Linked DNA regions of Homo sapiens: regions 2, 3, 4 and 5 are each linked to region 1. The links come from fine-mapping of genetic effects on gene expression. A gene starts in region 1. Each other region holds a variant in brackets. All regions are shown on one strand. Distances are from middle to middle. Region 1 holds the start of MYOM2 (myomesin 2). Region 2 overlaps CSMD1 (CUB and Sushi multiple domains 1). Region 3 overlaps MYOM2 (myomesin 2). Region 4 overlaps MYOM2 (myomesin 2). Region 5 overlaps LOC105377781 (a long non-coding RNA gene).

The links. PIP is the estimated chance that this variant, and not a neighbour inherited with it, causes the effect.
Region 2: its variant is fine-mapped to the expression of MYOM2 in ovary (GTEx, PIP 0.99).
Region 3: its variant is fine-mapped to the expression of MYOM2 in whole blood (TOPMed, PIP above 0.99).
Region 4: its variant is fine-mapped to the expression of MYOM2 in liver (GTEx, PIP 0.98).
Region 5: its variant is fine-mapped to the expression of MYOM2 in testis (GTEx, PIP above 0.99).

The regions. Positions count from the first base shown.
Region 1 is chr8:2,043,024-2,048,128 of GRCh38, forward strand. MYOM2 (myomesin 2) reads left to right here and starts at 2,023. Exons shown (of 37, transcript NM_003970.4): 1 at 2,023-2,145.
Region 2 is chr8:2,934,307-2,939,411 of GRCh38, forward strand. CSMD1 (CUB and Sushi multiple domains 1) reads right to left here. Exons shown (of 70, transcript NM_033225.6): 70 at 1,055-4,438. The coding sequence ends at 4,279. All of the region lies in intron 6 of LOC105377785 (a long non-coding RNA gene), which reads left to right. Among named protein-coding and RNA genes, the nearest start is that of LINC03021, 210 kb to the left of the region's middle. The variant T/TTGTA (reference allele first, on the strand shown) is at 1,917.
Region 3 is chr8:2,137,943-2,143,047 of GRCh38, forward strand. It overlaps MYOM2 (myomesin 2), which reads left to right. Exons shown (of 37, transcript NM_003970.4): 33 at 2,781-2,944; 34 at 3,199-3,235; 35 at 4,433-4,455. Among named protein-coding and RNA genes, the nearest start is that of MIR7160, 64 kb to the left of the region's middle. RefSeq lists an enhancer at 1-355. The variant G/A (reference allele first, on the strand shown) is at 2,372.
Region 4 is chr8:2,115,026-2,120,130 of GRCh38, forward strand. MYOM2 (myomesin 2) reads left to right here. Exons shown (of 37, transcript NM_003970.4): 26 at 935-1,079; 27 at 1,191-1,250; 28 at 2,860-2,927. Among named protein-coding and RNA genes, the nearest start is that of MIR7160, 41 kb to the left of the region's middle. The variant GA/G (reference allele first, on the strand shown) is at 2,240.
Region 5 is chr8:2,173,130-2,178,234 of GRCh38, forward strand. The region is part of intron 1 of LOC105377781 (a long non-coding RNA gene); the gene reads left to right. Among named protein-coding and RNA genes, the nearest start is that of MIR7160, 99 kb to the left of the region's middle. The variant A/G (reference allele first, on the strand shown) is at 2,474.

The DNA.
Region 1 (5,105 bases):
ACGAGGAGGGTGGGGAGGGGTCTCCTGTCCCCAGCAGAAGGCGAAGCTCTGTCCCCATCAGGAGCCTATCTGTGTCCCGGGTCACACTCTGCTCTCTGGGTGGTGTGGCTGAAAGATCCAGGCTTTCTTAGACGCAGCACTGGATTTCTATATCACAGAAGGAGGGCACAGCCACCGTGAAATGTCAGAAAAGGAGGAGGAGTGTGCTGGCCCTTCCTTCTCTCAGGAGAGGCCCCTCCCCGGGATGAGATTGTCCCCTCCTGAGATGCTAGGACTGGGACCCAGGCGACTGAGATGCCAGGACTGGGACTCAGAGGACTGAGATGCCACCTGAGGGGACGAGGCACCATCACTGCCCCTCCAGTGTCGGCCACACTCAGAGGCAGGGGGGCAGAAGGGCTGAAGGGAAGTCCCCCAGGTCCCTGAGAAATGGATTCGCTAGAGAAGGAGATGCTGATAAACCGGAAGTAAACATTGCTTGCTCTGGTCTTGCTGTTTGCAACCCCCCCAAAATATGTGGGTTAAAACCCTAACCCCCAAAACGATGGTGTGAGGAGGTGGGGCCTTAGGGAAGTGACAAGGTCATGGAGGTGGAACCTCCCGAGTGGGATCAGTATCCTCATACAGAGGCCCCAAGAGCGGCCTGGCCCCTTGACTTGGTGAGGACTCAGGGACCGCGCCGTCCCAGAACCAGAAGGCTCTCCCCAGGCAGTGTCTGCTGGTACCTGGATCTTGGACTTCCAGTCCCCAGAACTGTGGGAAAGAAGCTCCTGTGTTTTATAAGCTACACGGTCTATGGTGTTTTGCTAAAGCAGCCTGAATAGACTAAGAAATCACTCAACAAACACTAATTAAATTAAATGCTAGGCCATCAGAATACGAAGGGGAAGAAGACAGAAACACTCGCCTCCTGATCCAGCATCCAGAACGCTCTGGGGCCCAGCAAGAGGCTGTGCTCGCGTCTTTCTCGTATCTGATCTTCGCCTCCATCCACCTGCTCGCTGGTCCTTGGCTGTGCCTCTGATACCCCAGTGTGAGAACGTGGAGTTTCTTAAGGCAATTCTCTTATCATATTTTCTCTACTTGTCACAACAAACTTACAGGAAAGTTGTTATTCCATGCGTTTTAGAGCTGGGGAGCATAGCCCCCGTGGGCTGAGCAGCTGGCCGAAGTCCTCAGCCCCTGTGGTGAGGTGCAGCTGGAGTGTGATTCTCCGGGTCCTCAGATGGGGGCATCCCCTTGAGGCCCCGCCTCTTGGCCAGGCTGCAGCCCAGGACCGTGCCAGGTGTGTGTTATCTATATTTGGACACACGCTGTGCGAAACGACGGGCACCCTGCAATTATCCGTGTGGTGTAGACGCAGTGTACGTCTGTGGTAATGGCTATAAATAAGCCCCGACTTGCCGACTAGGCACCGCTCCTCTTTTGGGTAGGCAGTTCTTGCTAAAATAGCCCTAAGATACAATCGAGTGAAGACCTGAGTCGTTCTTGAAATAAAAAAAAAAAAACGAACAAACACACGAACATGCACACACACGCTCACAAACCCAGGGGCTTGTGCACCTCCCTCCCTCCACAGCCGACCTCAACTCGGGTGTCCAGGCCTGCGAATGGCACAAATGCTCACTGAAATCCATGTCATTATTAAAGACTCATTCAGGAGTTGCAATTTGTGAGCCAGGGAACCTGTAGCTCGAAAGGATTGAAGATATGTCTGAGAATTCACACGTAAGGATTAGAACTCATGGAGGAGAGTTGCGGGGAGGGAGCGTGGGAAGTCAGTGCCCTGCCCTCTCTTTCTGGGTCGGGGGCTGAAGTGTCACACCCGGTTTCCTGGGAAAAGTGCAGTTTGGGACTCAGAAAGGACACGTTCCAGTTTTGAATCGTGATTTCCCCCGCCCTCAGTTTGAACAAGAAGCTTTTCCTCCTGAGGTCAGGCTGGTGATTTACGATGTGGGTATTGATGTGGGGAGAGGCAGGCCCAGGCGTCTATATATAGTAGCTCCTCAGACCTTAAACGGGAGGGAGGCACAGGCGCTTGCTTTGCAGGAGTCAGCTCTGCCTTCCTCGGCTGGAGTGTGGGTGGCTTGGTGAGCCGGTGGTCAGGAATTCTCTCTCCTCCTTGCAATTTTCCTTTCTGTCTGGGTAAGTGTCTTTCTCTTCTTGCCTTTTCTAATTTGTGGCTTTAAGGGGAGGACCGGTAACTTCTGCACTCACATTTTCTAAGTACCTCTACTTCAGGGTCAAGAAGAGAGAGCCAGTGCACCCCGTCGCAGGCACCCTTTACTGTGGAAAACAGAGCAATTAGTTCTGGGATCTGTATTTCTTTGACGAGGTTTTATGCTCAACTAACATTTTATTTCCCACAGCCGTGGTCTTTGCTAAGTGCCGTTTAGCACCCTGCGGCGTGTGCTTTGGGTTTTAGCCCTGGTCTCATCGTGGCCCCAGGGGGCCCCCCAGTCAGTGGACTGATGTCTGCAAGTTTCATGAGATTCTCAGAAACGAAAGCCTCCCCCGAGGAGAGGGCTGACTTATAAAGGTGTGAAATAATAAAACTGGATATTTTCTTAAGGGAAAAAAGAGTCGAGGGTCATTCAGCTTAGACCTAGCCTATATTATCCACGGTATGGGAAAGAGAACAATCCTTGTCAGGACTTGCAAGTTTTTGCCCAAAAATGACAGCGTTCTTACGGCTGTTTTCTTCTTTGTGCTGTTGGGTGTGTTGTGACCCTTCAGACTTCTTCAGCTCCACTCCGCTGATAGAGGCTGTGCCTTCTCAGGGCGTGCTCTTGAAATGCAACCTGCTGGAGAAAGACAGTGGGGCTGGGTGGTTGCACGTGGAAGGCACCGGAGGCAAACGGAAGGAAGGGGTTTGCCATCACTGGGAACACCTGGCCTTTTCTAATTCTCCATTTCACATTCCTTTCTTACTAAGTAGAAGTAAAACAGGACTCAAAGAAAGCGTGGAACAAAGATAATTTAAGGCGTTATTTAATAAACCAAGTCCCAAGCTAAAACTTGTCTTGGGAGCCAAGGGCTTAGCCACTTGTGGCACAGGCCAACGCTGCGTGTCTGGGAGTCCCTTTCCCCTCTAGAAAGCTTTAATTTGGTGTATTTATTGACTTTGACATTTTTAACTGTACAAACAATTTCCTTCATTAAGTGGAAGTCAATGTTTTGTACTTCAAACATTTTTGCAAATTAAAACCCATCCTGGTGACATGAGGAATGGGCTCCACACGTTGTTTGCAGGAAGGAATTAGGATGGGGATATCAGACACGTGGTCCCCTGCACTGGAGGAGAGGCTCGCGTTTCATCCTGGTGTCATGATTCCTAAACGTGTCAGGAGCATTCCGGGAGTGGCCGGGGAGCTGGGCTGTGGTGGAAAGTGGGCTGGACGCTGTCAGGAGAGTCAGCTGGCGCCTGGGTTCGGCCGTGGCCCTACCGGTGACCCGGGCAAGTCATATTTCCCTGGGGACGGTCTGTGCTAACAGTACAGCGTGGCGCCAGGATTATCTACACACAGGCTGTCCAAGCTGGGGGACTGTTAGCTGCCACCTCACTCAGCCCCCTGTTTTACAGCAGAGCAGGTGGAGGCCCCTGAGCTGAAGGTCAGCAGGTCCCCACTGGAGTCTCAGCCTCCCAATGCGCCTGAGCCCCAGGGACTCACATCAAAAACTACCCTGCGAGGAAAAGCTGCTTTCTTTCTCTCTCTCTTTCTTTTTTCTTTTTTTTTTTTTTGGTTGGTGTGTGTAGGGGGTATTTAACACATGTCTGAGATAGTTCCTTAAAAAGGAAAACAGCTTTCTATGTAGACAGTAGAGGGACATTGGGGAGCTGATCGGCCCAGGTCCTGTCATTTTCTTTATAGTGTCATAAATAGTACAGGTTGATCATTCCAAATCTGAAGATCAGAAATCCAGAATGCTCTAAATTCTGAAACTTTGTGAGCGCTGGTATGACTCTCAAAGGAAATGCTTACATGAGCATCTCAAGTATCCAATTTCTGGATTTGAGTTGCTCAACCAGTAAGTATAAATGCAAGTATTCCACAGTCTGAAAAACAAATCGGGAATTGGAAACTCTTCTGGTCCAAGCATTTTGGATAAGGGATGCTCCACCTGTAGGGTGCATTTGGCAAGTCCTCTCCAGGGTTCCCTCCACTCAGAAGGGCCCTGTGCTGCCAGGGCTGCAGGCACCCAGCACGTGCTGAGTCAGTGGGGATTTGCTTGCAAAGACGTCATCACACCCGGCCAGGAGGTGGTGGCCCAGGCTGGGTGAGGGACACTGGGGAAGTTCTAACATAGGAAGTCCCCCAAGGAGTGAAGAGATTGCGGAGGGGACACACATTCAGGGTGGGTGAGGCTGGACGTGCAGTCCTGCTGGTTTTCTGGGTTGGGCATGTGATTGATAAAAGTGGAGTTGAGGGCACATTGGCACTGGGAGTCAAATGCGCAGAAGACTTGAGCTTGCTACTCTCCCGAGCCAGGAGCTCTAAGGTGTTTTCATTGTTGAAATCCAAGGGTTCTGATTTAGGCTTGGCTGGCACGTTGCAAGTGACCCCATACTTGTGGAATCAACTGAGGCTGATGGATTCTGCAAAGCCTCTGACACCTCCTGATTTTGGTGGTCCTGAGCATGAAGTGAGCAGGGAATACATGTGGGGATAAACGTGGCAAAGTGCCCTGTTACCCCCATCCAAAGACTTCCCGGGGAGACTTCCACAGTAAGGTACCATTGGAGTGAGGATTGCAGGAAGTGTGCACACGTGATCCCAGCTCTGCCTTGCTAAGCACTACAAAGTGTAGCCCCTCACACATGAAGTGTTTGAAGACTTCCAGGCCCACAGGACCGGATGTCACGTCAGTGATACATAGGTTGCATTGGACAGGACGTTACAGACTGGTTGAAGGATAGCTAGTCTGTGAGCTCTCAAGACCTGAGCCGTTTCACATTCTTCCAGGTCTTAGGTCTAAGGAGGAGGATTTCCATCCAGGGCGATTCTCCTCTTATTTCAATGTAGCTCATTCTCTCCTTTGACCTAATAGGTCACATTTTGACTCTTCCCTTTACCAAGAAATACAAACACATCTGAGGTTTAACT
Region 2 (5,105 bases), 890 kb after region 1:
ACTTATTTCCCTTTGAATTCTTAGCTTTGGTAATTATTTACTCAATGAAGCAAAAGAAGATTCACAGGTAGAATGACAGAAAAATTCAGAAAAAAAATTGGATAAGAAAGGGAATATTGGATGCATTTCATAATGTGACGGTTTCTTGAAAAATGAGAAAGTTGAAGCAAGAGAAACCTGACCTGTAATATCAGCTCTGCCTATCTGTGTGTCGTTGGGTAAACCAACCAACTTATTTAACTTCCTGCTTCTTCATCTAAATTATCAAAGTGGCAAAACCCTCTCGGTTGGATTATGGGGGTTTTGCAACGTCTGCGAGTCACAAAGTGCAGTGTCTCGCGCTCGGTATTTCCTCAATAAATGGCACCTAAATGCAGTTGCTGGCCAGCAAGACTCAGATTGCAAGTTGGACATCAAAACTTGGTCGCTGCGAAGCCACCGTGGGCTATTTTGGAAATATTATTGGTTGTTTTTCATTTTGTAATAACTTGACTCTCAGAGAAAGTAGTGTATCATTCTGTTGAACTGCAAGACATTCGGCGTGATGGGCCACCAAGGACGTGTAAAGCATTGTGTTTTCTGTCAGCCCAGAAATGAACGGGGGACCGCTGGTTCTGAGTTTAAAAAGCGGTTTGATTTTTTTGAGCCTTCTTTAAATGTGTTATTTGGAGTGCTCTGTTAAGTAGGTCTATAATTCTCTTTCATGTCATTTTTTTAGTGTGGTGAACGTTTACAAACAGAGCTCCCAAATTGAAAAGAAATCATAAAAAAACATAGGTTTTGGTTTGGAGGAAACCAAGTTTTCTTACCGTTTTTAATGTGAACCATCAAGAAATCTGTCAGCTTCAACGTTACTATTCTGTGTCTCATGGTTCCTGCTAAATGTGCTATTGATTAATCATGACGATGATGTGAATGTCGTGGGAAAAATATGGAGCTTCATTTTGAATATCCTAAAGGCTCATTATGAAGACTCCCATTCCTTCCCTCCCCTGCAAGGGACTCAGGTGCGCATATTAAAGTGAAAATAAATTCACACAGAAAAATAGAAATCTAAAATTAAATATTTAATTAGAACTCTGATTTGCTTTAAAGATTGGTGGCATTGCACAGGCTATATTACACCCTCTTTATAATTTTTTTGACAAAAAAAAGATACTGTTCATTTTAACAGGCCACTTTAATATTAATACATGTGTAATAGGATTGGAACTGAAAATCAGCTAGAGATGGTACATTTTACATTATTGGGAAAATTACAGTTCTGTATTGTAAAAACATTTATTTTTTAACAATGTACCTACATTAATCAAAAAATTACAGCATATTTAATAATTTTACAAATTCTTCATAAAAAATATATCTCTGTACAAAAAGGTCTTTCGCACCTACGTCGTGACAGCAGCGTGTGGTGGGACGGGAGGGAGGGTCGGCGATGACAATGGGTTTTCCTGATCATAATGCCAGCGTTCTTTTTTTTACCCCCTTTTTATAATAGCTTTTTGTTGTTGTTTACAAAATATTTTACAGAAGAAAAAAATTATTGCAGCTAGCCTGAAAAAAGGCAAGATGTGTGTGTAAAACAAGCAGCAGTTTTAAACAGCTCTGAAGCACGTGTCCTCTGTTAGTGTGTGGTCGCGTCCCTCACGCGTGTTCCCGTTGCCTTCAGGGAAGAGTCTTCTAGACCTAACTCAGCAAGCACAGCTCCTGACTGCCCTAAAATGAGATCCTCCAACACCTTGCGGAGACGCCGTTCAACACTGCACACAACCTTAGGAAGAAACTAGGCAGAATTCTCACACGAGAATTTCACTGATTTTTTTTTTCATTTAAATAACATGCTTCAAACTGGCAACCCTAGGACAGTTTGACTTTGCACACAAAGGAAAATCATATCTAATTTGATATGTGGTTTC[T/TTGTA]TGTATGTATGTATGTCCTGTCATTTCAGGATTTCATAGCATCGTTGACCAGGGAGCAGGTCAGGGATATGGGAACAGAGATGTTAATTCAGACTCTGAAGTCAGCATTTTGCACCTAGTTTGAATGACTCAAACTTAGATATGTACAATATATATATATATATATGTATGTATATATATACACTAATATGTATAGTAACCCTGTTCTCCCTTGCACACGAGCCTCCTCACACTTTCAATCATCTTCTGTTTCGTTCAATGTGTGTGTTAGGAGCACGACTCCCGCTGACCTCGTCCCGTCTACTGTGAAACAGCAATGTAAGGATTCCCACTGGCAAAGCAAATCTCCAAGGATGTGGGCAGGTTGGCCAGGGAAAACTGTGCAGAGAATTCAGCATAATGATACAGAATCCAACAGCGTGGGGTTCACAAGACAAAGGAGTCCCTAGGAGAGGCCAGTGAGTCCCCAAACAGCAGAGACCCTTTCGACCGAGGAACACAACACTGGGAGCCGAGCTCTACGGAAATGTCCGAATCAAAACGCGTGACTCTCCAAAGAATGCCCCATTTTCCTGACTGCTTTTCCTTTTCCACATTTGAAGTCCTACATGGAAACCTTCAGTACACCAACAGATAAATCAGTCTTAAAGCTAGGTGTCAATGTGTTCACTCCGACAACGTGAAGGCCAATTTGAACATTCTGACATTTCTATTACCAACGCCAATCTAAAATGTGAAACAGAGAAAATCTGCCACAATTGAATAGGAACTGAAATATCAAATAATAAAATAAGTACTATCGTTTCAAAAATATTTTTATCAAATAAGTATAAGTAAAAGTAAACATGATTTTCACTTTGAATTTGTTACATAAACTACCTCACGGCCACATCTTCTACTTCATGTTTTGATTTTTATTTGCCCTGGGGATCTTATAGATTTTATTTGCATCATAACTTATCATTTACCTATAATGGAATTTAAACTTGAAAAGTCACTGAAATTACCTTTCCATCTGGAATCATAAAGCATGAAACAAATAACAAATGAATGTATAAAATATATCATTGTGAGAGGAGAGTGTGTGTACTTTTTCCTTCCCTCTAAAAGAACACTTGGTATTTTGATCCTGAACAATTTTCACTGAGTTCAAGGTGCTACTGTGGTATATTGTCTTTCAATGCAATATCAAAGATCGATGGCACAGTAAAAGACAAAAAAAAAAAAAAACAAAAAAAAAACACTGCAAAAGGGAAGGCTGCATTGTGAGCTAAAACCCACAAGTTCATCGACTATCTAAAATAAATTACTATTCACAGTTTTACATGGCAAACAGAAATTTCTGCAAACCCCCTGCTATTAAGTAGTATCAGAGAGACAGTAATTGGATGAGGATGGTACTAAAGGAGGAAAACGTGTGAAATAAGGAGGCTTCTGTTTTTTTCTCATTGGACCTCTTCAATGAATTCAACACGTAAATGGAGCTAATTGAAGCAATAATAAAATAAATCTCTTCAATACTGTATTTCCTTTTAAAATCTGTGCCATATCTAGGAATACTTTTCCCTAACACTCCAACTAAGCTGATGGGGGAATGTTTAGCTTGATAATATGAAATAATGCTTATATACAATGGATAGTGTGTATAAACCCTGTGTAAATAATTTATTTTTTTTATCAGAATCTTAGTCATTCATAACACACTAGTGCAAAAAATTGTGCATTAAACATTCTGCGACAGAACAGCTGACTGGGAAATTGCAAACATCCCTAGAGATGAACACACAGGGGAGCTGTGAGGTCCTCAAAGCTTGTCAGGTCTCGGAAGGACAGAGTGAAGCATTTGTAGGTGTGAGCCTCTATCAGAAAGGTGTCTTCTTCCAGAAAGCTTTTTATTTTTTTCAGAGTATTCGTGTTCATGGGGGTTTAAAAAGGAAAAACAACACAAGAGAACACATATCGTGGTGCCACCATTCTGTCACCGCACCTGAGGGACATATCCACGAGCCCAGACGATTGCATTGAAAGGCATCTCAGCAACACAGAAATATGAAAGTCTGAGGCATTGAGTATGACGTGTTGGCGCGACGTGGCAGTCTTCCTGGAGTGTGCCTTGATTTCATACAGATGCAGCCAGGCATTTAGAACCCACTTTTGGAATGAAAACGCATGTGTAGTTTGATCCGTAGAAGACCCTGACACATTTGAGTAGAGATCCCCGCTGCACTTATGCCAGTAGACAAGGTTGAAGATCGCTGCAGTAAAGCCAGAGTGGAAGGGAGAGTGGTATATGGCACCAAAGGAATCACTGCTTGTCCATCAGAGGTATGGCTATGAATCAGTCCTGTTGGGGCACTGAGGGCTATACCACTGTACAGACTGTGTTCAGAGTTGTGTCAAACCTCACAGCCTTGGCTTCTGTGGGTTTTAAGTTTGTATCATACATGGGGTTTTCAAACGATGCTTGTCCATTGCTGTTTTCATGCCCAGCATAGCCATTGTATTGAACTTTTGGTCTCGTTCTAAGGAAAACAGAAAACAAATCATTAGAATCCTGGTTTCATTTGCAGATTTAGCAGCTGGGACTGTGTGCAGGAGACAACGTCTACAGAGCAGGGAGCAGTATAGCCAGGACGTTTGCAAAGAAGGAAGGCATCCACACCTGCACACCTGTCAGTTTATTTGCTTAAATTGGTGATTGGGAGTATAAAATGGGTTTTAAAAAGTGAATCGATTTCAAAAATTAAATAAAATTTTTTTGAGACAGGGTCTCACTCTGTTACCCAGGCTGGAGTGCAGTGGCACGACCACCACTCATTTCAGCCTTGACCTCTTGGGCTCAGGCGATCCTCCCACCTCAGCCTCCTGGGTAACTGGGATCAAAGATTTACTTATGCTTCCTACAAATGCCCCAGGGAAATCGGGAAGGTCCCAAAGGCTGAATCGGATTGGTTTTGTTTTGGATGTCTATTTATCACTGATAAGTTATACGGCCTTGGTTAAGACACGAAACTTTCTACTACTCTGTAAAACAGGGTTGTGGGCATATGCCTAGCCTTTAGCACGGTATGCTTACACTAAATTTCAAGTTTAAGCTTTTAGTTCACTGTCGTTACTAATATTCACAAAAAGTTATTTTTTATTTTGCCTCTGTTGAGTTAAAAATGAATCTTTATAAAAAAGGAACTA
Region 3 (5,105 bases), 95 kb after region 1:
ACGGTTTGGGATTGAGTGGCTAATCCACTGCCTGGTATATGTTCTGTGCAAGGTTTTTCTTTTCTGCAGAGCTGAGAATCACCATGTAAAGTCTAATTTTCCTTTTATACACAGGGATGAGTAGGTCTGAGTGCTGCAATGGCCCATCAATCCCTTTAGTAATAGCGACCTGCTGTGAGCTCACAGGACGGCTGGTGTGGCCACTGATGCTCACCTGCCCTCAGACACACCACGGATGGAGACTCTGGCAAGTCCGTGTTGCCTTTAATGTAAGCGCCAGCCTGCAGCTTGCAAACATGGCACTCTCGGCCCGGCCGGCTCTGGCTGCTGAGTGCTGGGGCCTGGGGTCATGGCCTCATCGCTTCTGCTTCCCTCTCCTGCTCCCCAGGCAGCCCATGCTGACTGTGGACTGAGAGCAGCTGGGCGGAGCCTGGGGCTCTGCTGCGGGGTCAGCCTTCGTGAGGCTCCCAGGTCAGCAACGTATAGAATTCCAGATGCGGGACTGAGAGATTCCTGAAGGATTGCCTGGTCCGATTCTCCCGCCTCTTTCCGGGGAGGGGCAGATTATGGGAAAAGGGAGCTAATTAACATATTGTGAAGGGCTAAAGGGGTCACTTTTACATTATGTGCATTCTAACACAGTTTTTAAAAGTTTAGATAGAACCAAAGTGCTCACACTGCCCTGCCTTCTAAGGCGGCACGAACTCGCTCCCACATCGGCAACAGGTGAGGCCAACCTGATTATTGTAGACAAATGTGTGTCAGTTATGTTCCAAAGTCGCTTCAGTAGATGTTGAGCATGTCTTCTTGGATTCTAAAACAACCGCACATGGGCAGTGTTAGATCCTCCCTTCTCTGTCCGGGATCCCAGAGGCTAAGTCTCAGGGTGAAGCCAATCCCACAAAACCATCCCTGGGAACAGCCATTTCGGCCTCTCTGGCTTAGTGTGCGCCAGGATCCCACTGTGCCTTCACAGAACTCCCACTTTCTATCCGGACAGACTCAGTTCCGACACACACTGCCAGCACCACCACCAGAGACCCGACACACACTGCCAGCACCACCACCAGAGACCCGACACACACTGCCAGCACCACCACCAGAGACCCGACACACACTGCCAGCACCACCACCAGAGACCCGACACACACTGCCAGCACCACCACCAGAGACCGGGACGCAGAGCCAAGCATTTATTTTTACATATATACTTTTTGAGACAGTGTCTCGCTCTGTTGGCCAGGCCGGAGTGCGGTGGTGTGATCACAGCTCACTGCAGCCTTGACCTCCTCGGGCTCAGGCAGTCCTCCTGCTTCAGCCTCCTGAGTAGCTGAGACTACAGGTGCTTGCCACCACACCCGGCTAATTTTTTTATTTTTGTTGAGACAGGGTCTTGCTTTGTTTTCCAGGCTGGTCTCCAACTCCTGGGCTCATGTGTTCCTCTTGCCTTCGCTTCCCAAAGTGCTGGGGTTACAGGTGTGAGCCACCACACCCGGCCTGAGCTGTGCATTTATTATGGGCTTAACATATATTTGTTGAAGGAAAGAATAACAGAGAAAAAGGCTATGATGGTGAGGAGGGCTGGAGAATTCCCTTTCCCGATGGAACATAGGCATTCTTGGTTGCCGGCAAGGGTAAGGAAAGATGCCACAAGCACCACAGCTGGCTCTCTGTGCAACTGACCCAGCCTGCTTCCCCAAGCTGCGGCTGTTCTGGAGCTGGTGCCCGAGAGAAACAGGTCCACATTCCAGCTCTTGGGTGGCCCTGGAGTCCGTCCTGTTTTCATGCACCTGTGACTATGACTTCCACAGATCTCTCAGGCTCCCTCTAAACTGAAGTAATGTTAGGAAATAACTTATACACTTTTGTCTGCAGTAAACAGTTTGGCCTTATATGTTGCAGATGTGGAACCTTAGAAGGCGGGAATGTATGAGCACCTTGTTTTTATCTAAACTTTAAAATATTGTAGCATAATACACATAATGTAAAAGTGAGCATTTTAACCACCTTTAAGGGTACTGTTCAGTGGTGTTAAGTACATTCACATCATCGTGCAGGCACCACCACCACCCAGGACCTTTTCATCCTCCCACCCGAAACTCTGTTCCCATTAAACCCTCAGTCCCCATTCCCCTCCCCCAGCCCCTGGTACCCACAGTTCTACTTCCTGTCTCTGTGAATCTGACTACCCTAAGCCCTTCATAGGAGTACATATTTGTCTCTTTGTGACAGGCTTATTTTACTCAGCAAAATGTCCTCAGGGTTCATGCACATTGCAGGAGGTGTTGGGATTTCCCTCATGTATTTATGGACCACATTCTACTGATCCATTCATCACCAATGGACGCTTGGGCTGCCTCCCCACCGGGGC[G/A]GTCGTGAACGATACTACGAAGGATGTAGGTGTGACAATATCTCTCCAAGACCCCGTGTCCAATTCTTCGGATCTACACAAGTAATTGCTGGATCATGTAGTAGTTCTAGCTTTAATTTTTTGAGGAACTACCATACTATATAGAGTAATGTTAAGTCCATTATGTCGTGACAAGTATATATTACATAATAATATACCTTTAAAAATTAAGTATCATTTAATTTTAGAAAGTTTTCAGATCTGAGTTACTGATGTGGTCAATACATTCGTAACAGCCAGAATAATCTATTGTGACATTGGCATCAGCAGCTTAGAGAAGGCTGTCACAGCAACGGGACATTGCCCTGTAGACATTGTGCGTGTGACATGGAGACCCTAACTCAGATACGTTCCTGTTGCTCTTTTCAAGAGATGCTAAGATCTCATCCAGTGAGCATATGAGAATCGGGGGGAGTGAAGAGATGGCTTGGCTGCAGATATGTGAGCCGACTGAGAAGGATAAAGGAAAATACACTTTTGAGATTTTCGATGGCAAAGACAACCATCAACGCTCCCTTGACCTGTCCGGACAAGGTAAGAGAATTCTTCTTTAGCATTTAATAATTTCCTATTTAGAAATCCATTTAGATGCTGAAGGGAGGGAATACAATATGAATACAAGAGACAATATGAATTTACAATTTTCATTTAGAGAAAATGAAAAAATAAATTTATTCTTTTTTTATATATCAGTTTTCATGAACCAGATTCACTGGTATAATATTTGAGTGAATAAATAAAATCTGAACACTGAAATGGTTAGTAACGTATGAACTATTTCCTCACAGCTTTTGATGAAGCATTTGCAGAATTCCAGCAATTCAAGTAAGATTTGTGTATTTAGTTACTATGATATCCTGTGGGCAGTTGAGTCCCAGTCGTTTTGGCTGCATGTGGGAATCTGTATGGAAGCCTGGGTGACCTAAAGAAAGAGCCATTCCTGGGACAGAAGTGGGAATTTAAGCAATGCAGTATATGGAGGGGTGGGCATTCTCCTAAACCAGAAATGCATTTATAAACGGACTGTCCAGAGTCATCGGAACCCCGGATGAATTTCGGAAATCATTATTGTGAGAGTTGAAGAAAGAGAAAAGAAACACGCAAAGCAGATTAACAGTCAAAGACAGGTTTATTTTGGAGAATAAACCTGAGTGGGGCTTTTGGCCGATTTCGGTCAGGAGCGCTTTCTTTTACAGACTAAGGGTATTTAAGGGTTCTGGCTCAGGCTAGGAAGGTTTCTGTGTGGAGGAGAGTTTTATTGTGAGGTTGGAATACCTCTGGTTGGAGGGGAGCTTATCTCAGGGTTGGAATGTTTTTGATTGGAGGGCAGGTTATGCCAGGGTTGGTATGTTTCTGGTCGGAGGTGTCATTTGTGGTTTATGGCCATGCTGACATTAGCCCTTAAGCTGATGTTTTTGGGCTGGACTTAGGCGGTTTCTAATCAAGGAAGACTTAAAATGGCGATGCTAGTCCAAGATGGCGGTGCTGCTGCTCTGCCAGTCATCATCAGGGCAGCACATCACACACAGCAACTTTTTAAGGACAATTCGGGGTTTTCAAATGCACCATCGAGTCTTCGCACATCCGAAGCTGACCGCAGTCCTTGGCCCATGCTAGCTTATTTAATGAACATTTGTTGACTGGGTGCAGGGATGAGCAAGATAGATCAGAAACTGACAAATTCCGAAAATATCTCAAGTCTCCAGTGCAATCTAGTGAATTTGTGAAAAAAAAAAAAATCTCTTCAACCTGTGAGCTGGAATGCTAAACTTTTCTGTGGGTTTTAGCATCTGGATAATAGGGCATTTTCCACCTCAAAATGGGCAGTGGGAACCATCAGGAAAAATCAGTGATATCCATCCTGGGGTCCTGTGACCCGAACATGTTCTTCTAAGAGAATGCAAACGTATCTCCTTCTTCTTTTGCTTCATCGCTAGTGAGCCTCTCAGCTGTGCATTTTGTTGGAAGCATTTTCTCATACTCTCTTTTCATTCTCTCCTTTCTGTCCCCTTTAACTTTTAGAGCTGCTGCTTTTGCAGAGAAGAGTAAGTACCTGTTGGATTGTAACCAGGATGGTGAATTATTTGGGGTGGGGCAAAAGTGTCCATATTTTGGAGGACCAACTTTGTGTATTAAATAATAACCAGCAATCCCCCACCCTGATGTAACAACGCCACCAACACCACACCCTGTCCTGGAGCCCCATGTCCTGCACCACTGATCCTTGCACTGCTTTCGGCCTTAGCCCCGTCACCCCTTGGACACCCTCCCTCCCTCCTCCCTTGCAGAACCTGCAGCCCAGACACCCAGGGCCACTTCACTTTCTTTCCCTCCCTTCCTCCCTCCCCTCCCCTTCCCTCCCTCCCTCCCTCCCTCCCTTCCTCCCTTCCTCCCCTCCCTCCCTTTATTCTTTTTTTTTTTTTGACAGAGTCTTGCTCTGTCACCCAGGCTGGAGTGCAATGGCATGATCTCGGCCCATTGCAACCTCTGCCTCCTGGGTTCAAGCGATTCTCCTGCCTCAACTTCCCGAGTAGCTGGGATTACAGGCACCCGCCATCATGCCCGGCTAATTTTTGTATTTTTAGTAGAGACAGGGTTTCATCATGTTGGCCAGGCTGGTCTCTAACTCCTGACCTCAGATGATCTGCCCGCCTTGGCCTCCCAAAGTGTTGGGATTACAGGCGTGAGCCACTGC
Region 4 (5,105 bases), 72 kb after region 1:
GTTTTGAAAGGTTTCATTAGAATTAGAGTTATTTAAGTGAAAAAGTGAAATTTAAGTATTAATATTAATTTATAACTTTAATAATTATCAAGAAGCACAAAAAGGTAAAAATATCAAGCCCCCAAATAAGGCAACCAGCAAAAAAAAAACAAAAAACAAACAAACAAAACATAAAAAAGAGAAATAAGCATTAATAAAGATGGGGAAAATGGTTTTAGTGAAGTTAAAAAGTTAATAAGTAAACATCACAAAATCAGAGGGAAACAAAAGATCAAATTTGCTCAATTCATCTGTGTGTTAGAGAAACACTTGTTCTTTGACTTGTAGGATTACCTAAATAGAACACATTCATATGTATCTGTGCATGTACTGTAGAATAAAATGAAACATTTAAAAAATAAAAGCGATCAAAAAAGTCAACACCTGTTGGAGGTCCATTTATCCTTTCCTCACCTGAAACCCCTGCACCCTGATGGACCACAGCAGGCTGGGGCTTGTGGGTGCTGTGTCCCGGGAGCTGAAGATGACAGTGGCTGTGGAGATTGCCTGTTGTTGCTATCCATGTGGGATTTTTGTCATCAGCTGGTGATCGTTATCATTCATATCAATTGCGTATCATTTTATTTTCTCCTGTGAATTTTATCTGCTTCACGTTAGTAACTCATTCTTGGGTAGGTGTGGAGTCTCTGCCTAGAAGGTCCCTGGTTTGGACTCTCAGATCTCCTCACACAGCCAGGCTTTGTCACTGAGTGACAGCTCATACCCACTGTTTGATCCTTGTTCACCCAGAGGTTTCCTTGATAAAATTTCATTTTGGTTTCTTCCTATCATAATCCCTTGAGATCTCATGGCTGATGCAATTGTTAAATGTTGCAAGGGAAAACTAGGAGAGATTTCCTTGTATAATTCTCCATTTCCCTTGTTTTGCTTGCAGATACACAGAATTAAATGTGACAAAGCTACTGGCATTATTGAGATGGTGATGGATCGATTTAGTATTGAAAATGAGGGGACCTACACTGTGCAGATTCATGATGGGAAAGCCAAAAGTCAGTCTTCTCTAGTTCTTATTGGAGATGGTATGCTATATCGAATATTTCCACGTCCATACAAGATAATTCAAATGAAATTCTTTTGACTGGAGAGAAGCAAACATGTTTCATATATATTTTTTTAAATATTGAATTTAGCATTCAAGACTGTGCTGGAAGAGGCTGAGTTTCAAAGGAAAGAATTTCTCAGGAAACAAGGTGAGTTTCCTCACTCTGACCGGCTCCCCTGCCCCTAGCATAAAGCAAAGATGATTGGAGTATTTGTCAGAAGCAGATCTTGCATGATCCCAAGCAACCCTAAAGGCTGTTTTAAATGATTAAGAGGTTAGGCTTACCAACTGCATAGGAAAGGAACCTGCTTTATAGCAGGGGAGTGAAGAGGAAAGCGTGCCTCTAGCTTTAATGTCCAGACGGAGTCCAGCAATTTTAATGAAAAGAATAAAGAATGGGGGTAGAGGAGGTGGTGGCTTCATTTGGCTTTGAAATGTAGAGAAGGCAGTAGAGGCTATTCCTATCACCAGGAAATTGCTCATTCTACTTAAGATTGTGGGAGCTGTTAAACTTTCTAACTACAAACAATATGTTTTAAATAGATTGCTTTTACAAATACATGTTAACTAGATACAAAGGAAAATGGATACACTTTAGATTCTCAAACATACCCCAAGGGTTTATTCAAAGAATTTTTTTTCTTTTTTGAGATGGAGTCTTGCTCTGTTGCCCAGGCTGGAGTGCGGTGATGCCATCTTGGCTCACTGCAAGCTCCGCCTCCCGGGTTCACGCCGTTCTCCTGCCTCAGCCTCCCGAATAGCTGGGACTACAGGCGCCCGCCACTATGCCCGGTTAATTTTTTCTGTATTTTTAGTAGAGACGGACGGGGTTTCACCGTGTTAACCAGGATGGTCTCGATCTCCTGACCTCGTGATCCGCCCGCCTTGGCCTCCCAAAGTGCTGGGATTACAGGGGTGATCCACTGCGCCCAGCCTCAAAAAACATTTTTATATATGGGATTTCTGAACTTCTTGAGAAAAATTAGAATGTGAATTATGAAACATAAAATCAAAACATTCATTTTTATTATTTTTCATTGTTTTTATTTCTAATAGTCACAAATATTTTACTTACTTCTACATTATGAACATTTTTGGGCCAACTTTGTAGGATGTATTTATGTATATGAAAGAAGT[GA/G]ACACATACTTTCCAAATCTGCTTTGTATTTTTGCATTGAATGGCAAAAGGGTATTAGTGTATGACTTATTCCTACATGTATTTTAAATAAAAATGATTAACATTTTTTAAAAACATATATAAACCTGTCTTTGATTTTGAATGCTATCTAAAGAAAATGTGTTTTACAAAATTGCTAGGTCAAACTGTTGTTTCTTTATCTCATATCTATTCTCTTATTTAAAGGTATTATTTACCATGTTGTCGAATGTTCAGTTAGACATATACTTTGGGAAACAAAATATAATTATTTCAATAGCCTCCTTTCTGAAGAGCAATAGATATGAGATGTCAGTAAGAAGGAGCCATCAGACGTACGCTCCTACCAGGAAGCACAGATTCCAGTGGAGAATCAGTGTTAACACGTGTCGACATCCCAGGCCTGAAAACTATCTCAGTTTCATCCTCCACAGCTATTGTGTTCTGCCAAAAATGCATTACATAAATATATATAATACATTCTTATGTATTATATATACACACCATGCATATATGTGTGGGTATATATATATAATAGCTATATATTTATTTGTTTACTTTTTCCTTTTTTATATGTTTTCTTCCCTTTTTTCCTCCCTAGGCCCTCATTTTGCTGAGTACTTGCACTGGGATGTCACGGAAGAATGTGAAGTTCGACTTGTTTGCAAGGTGAGAAACCCGGTTCTAACAGGAAAACAATAAATCTCATTCTGGTTCCTATCAGAGAGGCCTTTCAGGGAGTAGCTGTGGCCAGATCTGTGATGCTGGTGAGGAAACGTGTGGTGCCTGTGTAGCTGCGGATGGGCGGAGTGGCTTTTGGGTCCTGTGGACTTTTTAATACTTGGACTTCAGTGCTTATCTTTTCTTCTTCACGAAAAGATTACAGTGTAGTGGGATGCAATGGAAGGTTGGATTATAAAAATTTTACTTAAACGATTATTAAGTGAGTTTATGAGAAAGTGTGCCCTGGTGAAATACACCTAGAAGTGCTGCTCATACGAGTTCATCAGGAAAGGAAAGGCATGCTTTGGAGACAAGATACTTCTTTCAGTTTCGTTTAACAATGTAGTAATGAAATATGTTTTATTACTAAATATAAAAATCTGTTTTTTAAGCAGCAAATCTTCAATTTAATAACTGCCTACTATTTGACTGTCTCAGGATGAGGGGATGGGGGAAAAAGATCAATAATGCATTGTTTTTACTCCCAAACTAGTTTCTTATTGTCTACTGGATAAGAGAGAAAAGTAAACAGACAGTTTCAATAAAGAGATGATTCGTGAGCTGCGTGTGCCAAGGGGACTAAGAATTATGCAGGCCAGTGAGTGGGAAAAGATGGTTCTAGGAAGATCCAGCAGCAGGGAGGGACAGAGAAGCTGAACTGTGCACTTAAAAATAAAAACAATAAAAAACCCAAGGCTGGTGGGCAAGTGGGGCATTCCCCTGCAGGACCCAGAGGCTGGCCATGGACTGAGAGGGTACAGAGCACCTGAGGGCTGTTAGTGCAGTGACACGGGCTGCTGGTTGACAAGGAAGGCTGGAGGTGGCAGGGCTGGAGGACGACGCTTCAGTAGGCTGCTGAGAGATGGTAACTCCAGCAGGGCAGTTTCATATCCACCGAGAGAAGGAGATTTAGGATACACATCCAGCAGTTAAAACCAGCAGGGGCTGGCAAGTAGCTGGGTGTGGGTGAGAGGGAAGTGTACTGGAGGACCGAGTGGGTGTGATATTTCTTGAGATCAGCACTGTACGGGGAGGGCCAAGTTTTAGGGTTTTGAGAATACATTCAATTTCACAAAGATTTAGTTATATCCGTGGAATGGTCAGTAAGGCATAACCGGCTCACGACAGGACATGTGAACCTGGCAGCAATGGGAAAGTCATCTGGAGCATGTGGATTCATGAGATATCGTGTGTGGATTCATGAGGTATTGGGAATGCTTGGCTGTGGACATGACGCAAGTGGGTCAAGCTGCCAAAGGACAGCCTTTAGAGACAGGAACATCACAAACAATTGGGGCATTCTGGAAAATTCAGATTGTCAGAGGAGAAGAGGAGACCAGCTCCAGGATTATTAAGCAGAAACCCTCAGAGAGTTCAGAGGGAAAGCAAGTGACTTGGTGGCCTCTGGCAGGGAGGGACTTTGGAGTGAAGCGCTGCGTGGCCGGGTGAGGAGGGGCGGCTGGAGGCAGCGCTGCATGGCCGGCTGAGCAGGGACAGCTGGAGGCAGCACGGGCTGGGTGCTGGGCTTTCCAACCCCACTCCCTGGCAAGGCAGGGTCTCTACGTGGTGGGCTGAGGAGATGGGACACAAGGGGGGATACGAGCAGGAGCCCGCTGCCCTCTGAGGTGCTCAGCTGGCAGTGAGGGAGAGCGAGGGGAGTCAGGGTGGCTTTGTCTTTCCTTCTGGATGGAGACGCTCAATCCTATTTATAGGCAGAGGGGTCAGTGGAAGAGGACTCACAGGTGAAGGAAGGGGAGCACATGGGGACACAGGAGGGGCAGTGCTGGCCTGGAGGGAGATGAGACCAGGTCAGCACAGCCATGCAAGGGGCTGCTTGGCCCCCAGGGCAGCTCCCTGTGAAGGACAATGAGGGGGCGGGGGGGATGCCAAAAACCAGGGCAGAGCAAGCGGCAGATCCATCAGTGCAGCCCGTTGGTTTCACACTCTTTCCAGTGAAGGGTTGGAGGGTGTTGAAGATGAGGAAGGTAGCCCACAGTGGGGGGAGTGGCAGGAGTGGGCTGTGATTGCCACTGAAGGAGGCAAGACAGCAGCTCCTTATTAAGAATGGAAATCATTGTTGAGTGCATCAACGTGGAGATAGCTCGTAGTGGCCCACATAGGGGT
Region 5 (5,105 bases), 130 kb after region 1:
AAGCAGATTAAGGAGTCCTCAGTCAGGTAGATGTCCATGAGTGAGGTGGTTAGATGAAGGAAATGAAGTCATTCCAAAGCCAGAGGACTCACAGACATGTCTGTGGTCCCGTGTGTGCCTGTACTGTCAAAATGAAGGCTCGCGATAACCCAGGTTCCTGGGCTACCGTCAAGGGTTTTACTGTGCCTTTTAGGAGACCCTCAAAAGTCTCCTCTTGCCCTTCAATGCCTTCCTTGAGGCAATTAGCTATGGGGCTGAACATCCCCAGGTGGTCAAGATAACCTGAGAGGAACCAAATCTCATCGTGTGTAATGAGGGCTTCTTCCTTCTCTTCAGGGACATATGTCTTGGAGGAGTTCCCTATCAGTTTGTAGGACGAAAGAATGGTGAGAGACATGGGAAGAGAACAGCTGATCGGATCCCGGTCCTCTTCCTCGAAGCATCCATGGAAGGCTCTCGAATGGCTGAATGTCAGGGGTGCTTCATCAGCCTCACTAAAGATGGAGGAGGAGAGGGGTCAAAGCTGGGCTCAGATGAAGCTAGGACAGTGTGGCAGAGCCCTGGGCTCCCTGCGGGGCATGGGGAAGCCTCTGAGGATGGCTGAACCTTGTGGGGAGGTGAGATTTCCACCCGCTGGTGTCCCTGCTCCCCTCCCCTGTATGACAGTGTGAGAGGGGAACCATAGCCGGCTCCTTAGCTTTCCACTGGTAAAATGATCACTAACTTGCCCTTTGGGTGATAATTTAACTCACATCTTAACCATACAGTTCCCTGATGCCTTAAATCAGTGGTCCCCAACCTTTTTGGCACCAGGAACCCGTGGAAGACAATTTTTCCACGGACGGGGTGAGGGGGATGGCTTCAGGTTGACTCAAGCACATTTACGTGTATTGGGCACTTTATTTCTATTATTATTATTACATTATAACATATATTGAAATAATTATGCAACTCACCATCACATAGAATCAGTGGGAGCCCTGAGCCTGTTTTCCTGTAACTAGAGGGTCGCGTCTCAGGCTGATGGGTTGAGGACCCCTGCTTTAAATATCATCACCATTTAATTCCTTTAAAAACATCCATGAAGCACGGACTCGAGCCAGCTATTGTTTTGTTTGCTGGGGCGTAAGCCCACAAACAAGCCCCGTCCCTGCTGCTGAGGAAGGCCGTGCATTTGTGTCGCCAGGAAGCAGAGTGGCTTCCTGCATGTGCGCGGCTGACCGTGACAGAGCCTGGCACAGATGTGGAGAGGGGAGAAGTACATCCCTCCAAGACACCCGGGAGGGCCTCCTGGAAGAGGGGCCCAGGGTGGCTCAGACTCCAAATGTGTGGGAAGTTGAATTGGAGGGAGAATTGCTGTCTAGGAGAAGAGCCTGAGAAAAGTCAAAGAATTGTGGGAAAATTTCCCAGAGATCATGGATAATTCAAGACTGAATTTTGTACCCCCACCTGGTTGGCATCAGCTGCTGGTCTGTCAGCTATTCTTAGCAGAAAAAAAAAAAATCCCAGACAATATTGTCTATATTTCTCAAAAAAGCCCTTGCGTTTTGAATGGATATTATTATATCACACCTTAAATTAACAGGGAACCATTTCAAATCCCCATTTGAAGTTTTACTTTACATCAAATTCTCACTAGACTGAAAGATCCCCGAGAGTGGGGAGACATTGTTTGCTTCTGTTTATAGAGGCTCAGTACAGTCCCTGGAACTTGACAAGTACTAGCTGTGCTGGCTGAATGGACGCACATACTTTATATGGCGTCTGGTGACTGTCTCTGACTTTGCAAGGTGTCATGTTTTCTCTACTTTGAAAGGGTTGGGTTTGATCAGTACTTTCTCAGTTTACTCAGGGAGTCACTTACACAGCACAGCCACCATGAATAGCGAGGATCAACTCTCCTTCCAAGATTTCCTGTCGCTGAAGACAGCACCGCATGGATGTATTCATCCTGTCCATGGACTATTGACTGATTCCTGTTTTCTCTTTTCTTTTCTTTTGAGATGGAGTCTCACTCTGTCTCCAGGGCTAGAGTGCAGTGCTGCGATCTCATCTCACTGCAGTCTCTGCCTCCCAGGTTCAAGTGATTTACCTGACTCAGCCTCCTGAGTAGCTGGGACTACAGGCGCCCACTACCACGTCTGGCTAATTTTTTTTTATTTTTAGTAGAGATGGGGTTTCACCATGTTGGCTAGGCTGGTCTCGAACTCCTGACTTCAAGTGATCCACCCGCCTCAGCTTCCCAAAGTGCTGGGATTACAGGCCTGAGCCACCGTGCCTGGCCCCACTTTCTGTTTTCTATAGTCAAGTATGCATTAAGTAATCCTGATGCACCCATGTATCCTGAAAGCAGGTGTTTATCTTGCTTGGTTAACGTGAGAGTAGCATAAGGTAGACACCACAGGTCTGGTTCAGGGCTGCCACACATATTCTCTGTTCCCACGTCAAAGACTTCACTGACTTCCCTTGGTCA[A/G]CCAGAGCATAAGTATGCTTTTTGCTAATGACAACAGATGAACAGGAGGTCATCAGCTGAGCAGAAATTATGGTGAGTGTGTTTCATACCTGGGGCCCATGGCTTTGTAATCACTTAGGTTTTTAAATTATTTACATTGTATTTCACCAATGTGCCCTCTTATAGCCCCTTTTTACTTTAAGTACAGTAGTTGGGAAACTAAGTGACTCATAAGAAACTGAAATTAAAATAGATTTGTATCAGGAGAAGCTGACAGTTTGGAGTTTGATAGTCGATAAAAACTTGAAAATTTCTTTCTTTTTATTTGGCCCTGGGGCATAAAGTATTTATTGAGCTGACAAACTCAAGCTGATATACTACAAGAGCATTTCATCAATAATATCTCTTTTGCTTATCCAGTAAGTAACCTCAGTATTAAATAGAGAGGAAAAAAAATCACTTGGTGAAGATATCCACTCCCAAACAGCAATAGATGGAAAAGGTTATAAATCCAGTTACGATTCAACTAAAGACTAATTGGACCGCTTTCATAAGAACAGATGAGACTTCCTAGCAAGGCAGACAATTGATCGTGCCCTGTAATTCCAGACAGTCCTTCTGTCAGAGATGCTGAGAAAGGTCCCACTGAGTCAGGACCTGCCACTGGAACCCTGCGCCTGGCAGGGAAGGGACCCCAGAGGATGAAGGGCAGGGACTTGGGGTACTGACTTGGCTATGCAATGACCTAATTCTCTAAAAAAATGCAGATTTTGTCATGCCTTATGTCCTGAATCTGTGAGTATCTCTGTTCTATGTGATAGTGTAGACCGTAGATGCTAGAGGAGCAGCAAGTTGTTTAAACATTTTAAATAAAAAGATCAGGTAATAATATTAGGATCTCTTTAGAATTTAGCTAGAAATGAACAGATTTGAATCATCAATGCAAAAAGATCTCCCAATGAATATATTGAAAAATAGTATCATATTGCAATTTGGAGTAACTATTTTCCCACTTAAATAATTTTATTTTACCAGTTTTGTGTAACGTGAGGATAGTAAATCCTTTTTAATCTACATTTTAATGTCATTTTGAGGACCCAATACGATGCTAACAAGTGGTTCCACAATCTCAAACTTCCATGTGTGAAATGTTGTATGTGAGGATTTTATCCCTTCCCCAGCAATACTGACACTTTCCAGTAAAAAAAAAGATACCAGTTTAGAATTTCTCTACTCTGTAAAATAAAAATAGGGAGAATATGTACTTTTGGCCGCCTTGAGAGGGAAGGAGCTCTTTCAGAATATTGTTCCTTCGAAGTTGACCCTCCTTGGTGAGGCTGGGCATGCCCAGGGGCAGGGGCTCTGTCTTTCCTGCACAGACATTCCCATCGCAGAGCAAATGCAAACATTGAGAGAAGCCACAAATGGTTTGTGTGTGTGCTGCTGCAGTGGAATGCACTGTCTTTATTTTAAAATTATTTTTAATTTTTGTGGGCACATTGGAGGTGTATATACTTATGCGGTACATGAGATGTTTTGATGCAGGCGTGAAAGATGAAATAAGCACATCGTGGAGAATGACGCTTCTATGCAATAATATGTGTCTGGATGCTTGTCACAAGTATCTAGCCCTTCGAGCATTTATCCTTTGTGTAACAATCCAATTATACCGAGTTCTTTTAAAATGTACAATTAAGTTCTCACAAGTGCTTTTAATGAGTAAGAGATGATAAAGGCAACATGCTTTTACAGGTCCAAAATGACTGAAGTTGTGATTTGTAATGTGGCATTCCCTCTATTGTGTGTAAGGTCAACACCATTCTATTTTGAATAACAGAAACACTATTATTATTATTACCTTTATATGGCTCACCTTGATTTTTGGTCCTTCTACACTACTTTTTTCCTGTAGGTGATTACTTTTTGGCTGGGTGCAGTGGCTCACACCTGTAATCCCAGCACTTTGGGAGGCTAAGGCAGGCAGATCACCTGAGGTCAGGAGTTTGAGAACAGCCTGGCCAATATGGTGAAACCCTGTCTCTACTACAAATATAAAAATTAGCTGGGCGTGGTGGTGGGCATCTGTAATCCCAGCTACTCGGGAGACTGAGGCAGGAGAATCGCTTGAACTGGGGAAGCGGAGGTTGCAGTGAGCAGATAGCACCATTGCATTCTAGCCTGGGTAACAGAGTAAGACGCTGTCTAAAAAGAAATTTTTTTTTTTAACTTTTAAGCTCAGGGGTGCATGTGCAGGTTTGTTACATAGTTAAAATCATGTCATGAGAGTTTGTTGTACAGATTATTTCATAGCAGGTGTTGAGCCACTACCCAATAATTGTTTTTTTCTGATCCTCTCCCTCCTTCCACCCTCTACCCTCCAGAGGGGAACAACCCACACTGGGGCCCAGGGAGGGTGGTGGGCGGGAGGAGGGAGGAGGGAGGGGATGAGAATAATAATGGTTACTAGGCTTTATACCTGAGGCTGAAAGAATCTGCACAACAAACTCCCACGGTGCGAGTTTACCTATGAAACAAACCTGCACATGCACCCCTGACCTTAAAAGTTAAATAAGAAAACCAAAACAGCCACAACAGCAAACACTGTGTAAGTGAATATGAAGAGTGGAAATTCTTGACGCCTTTCCTCCTTGTG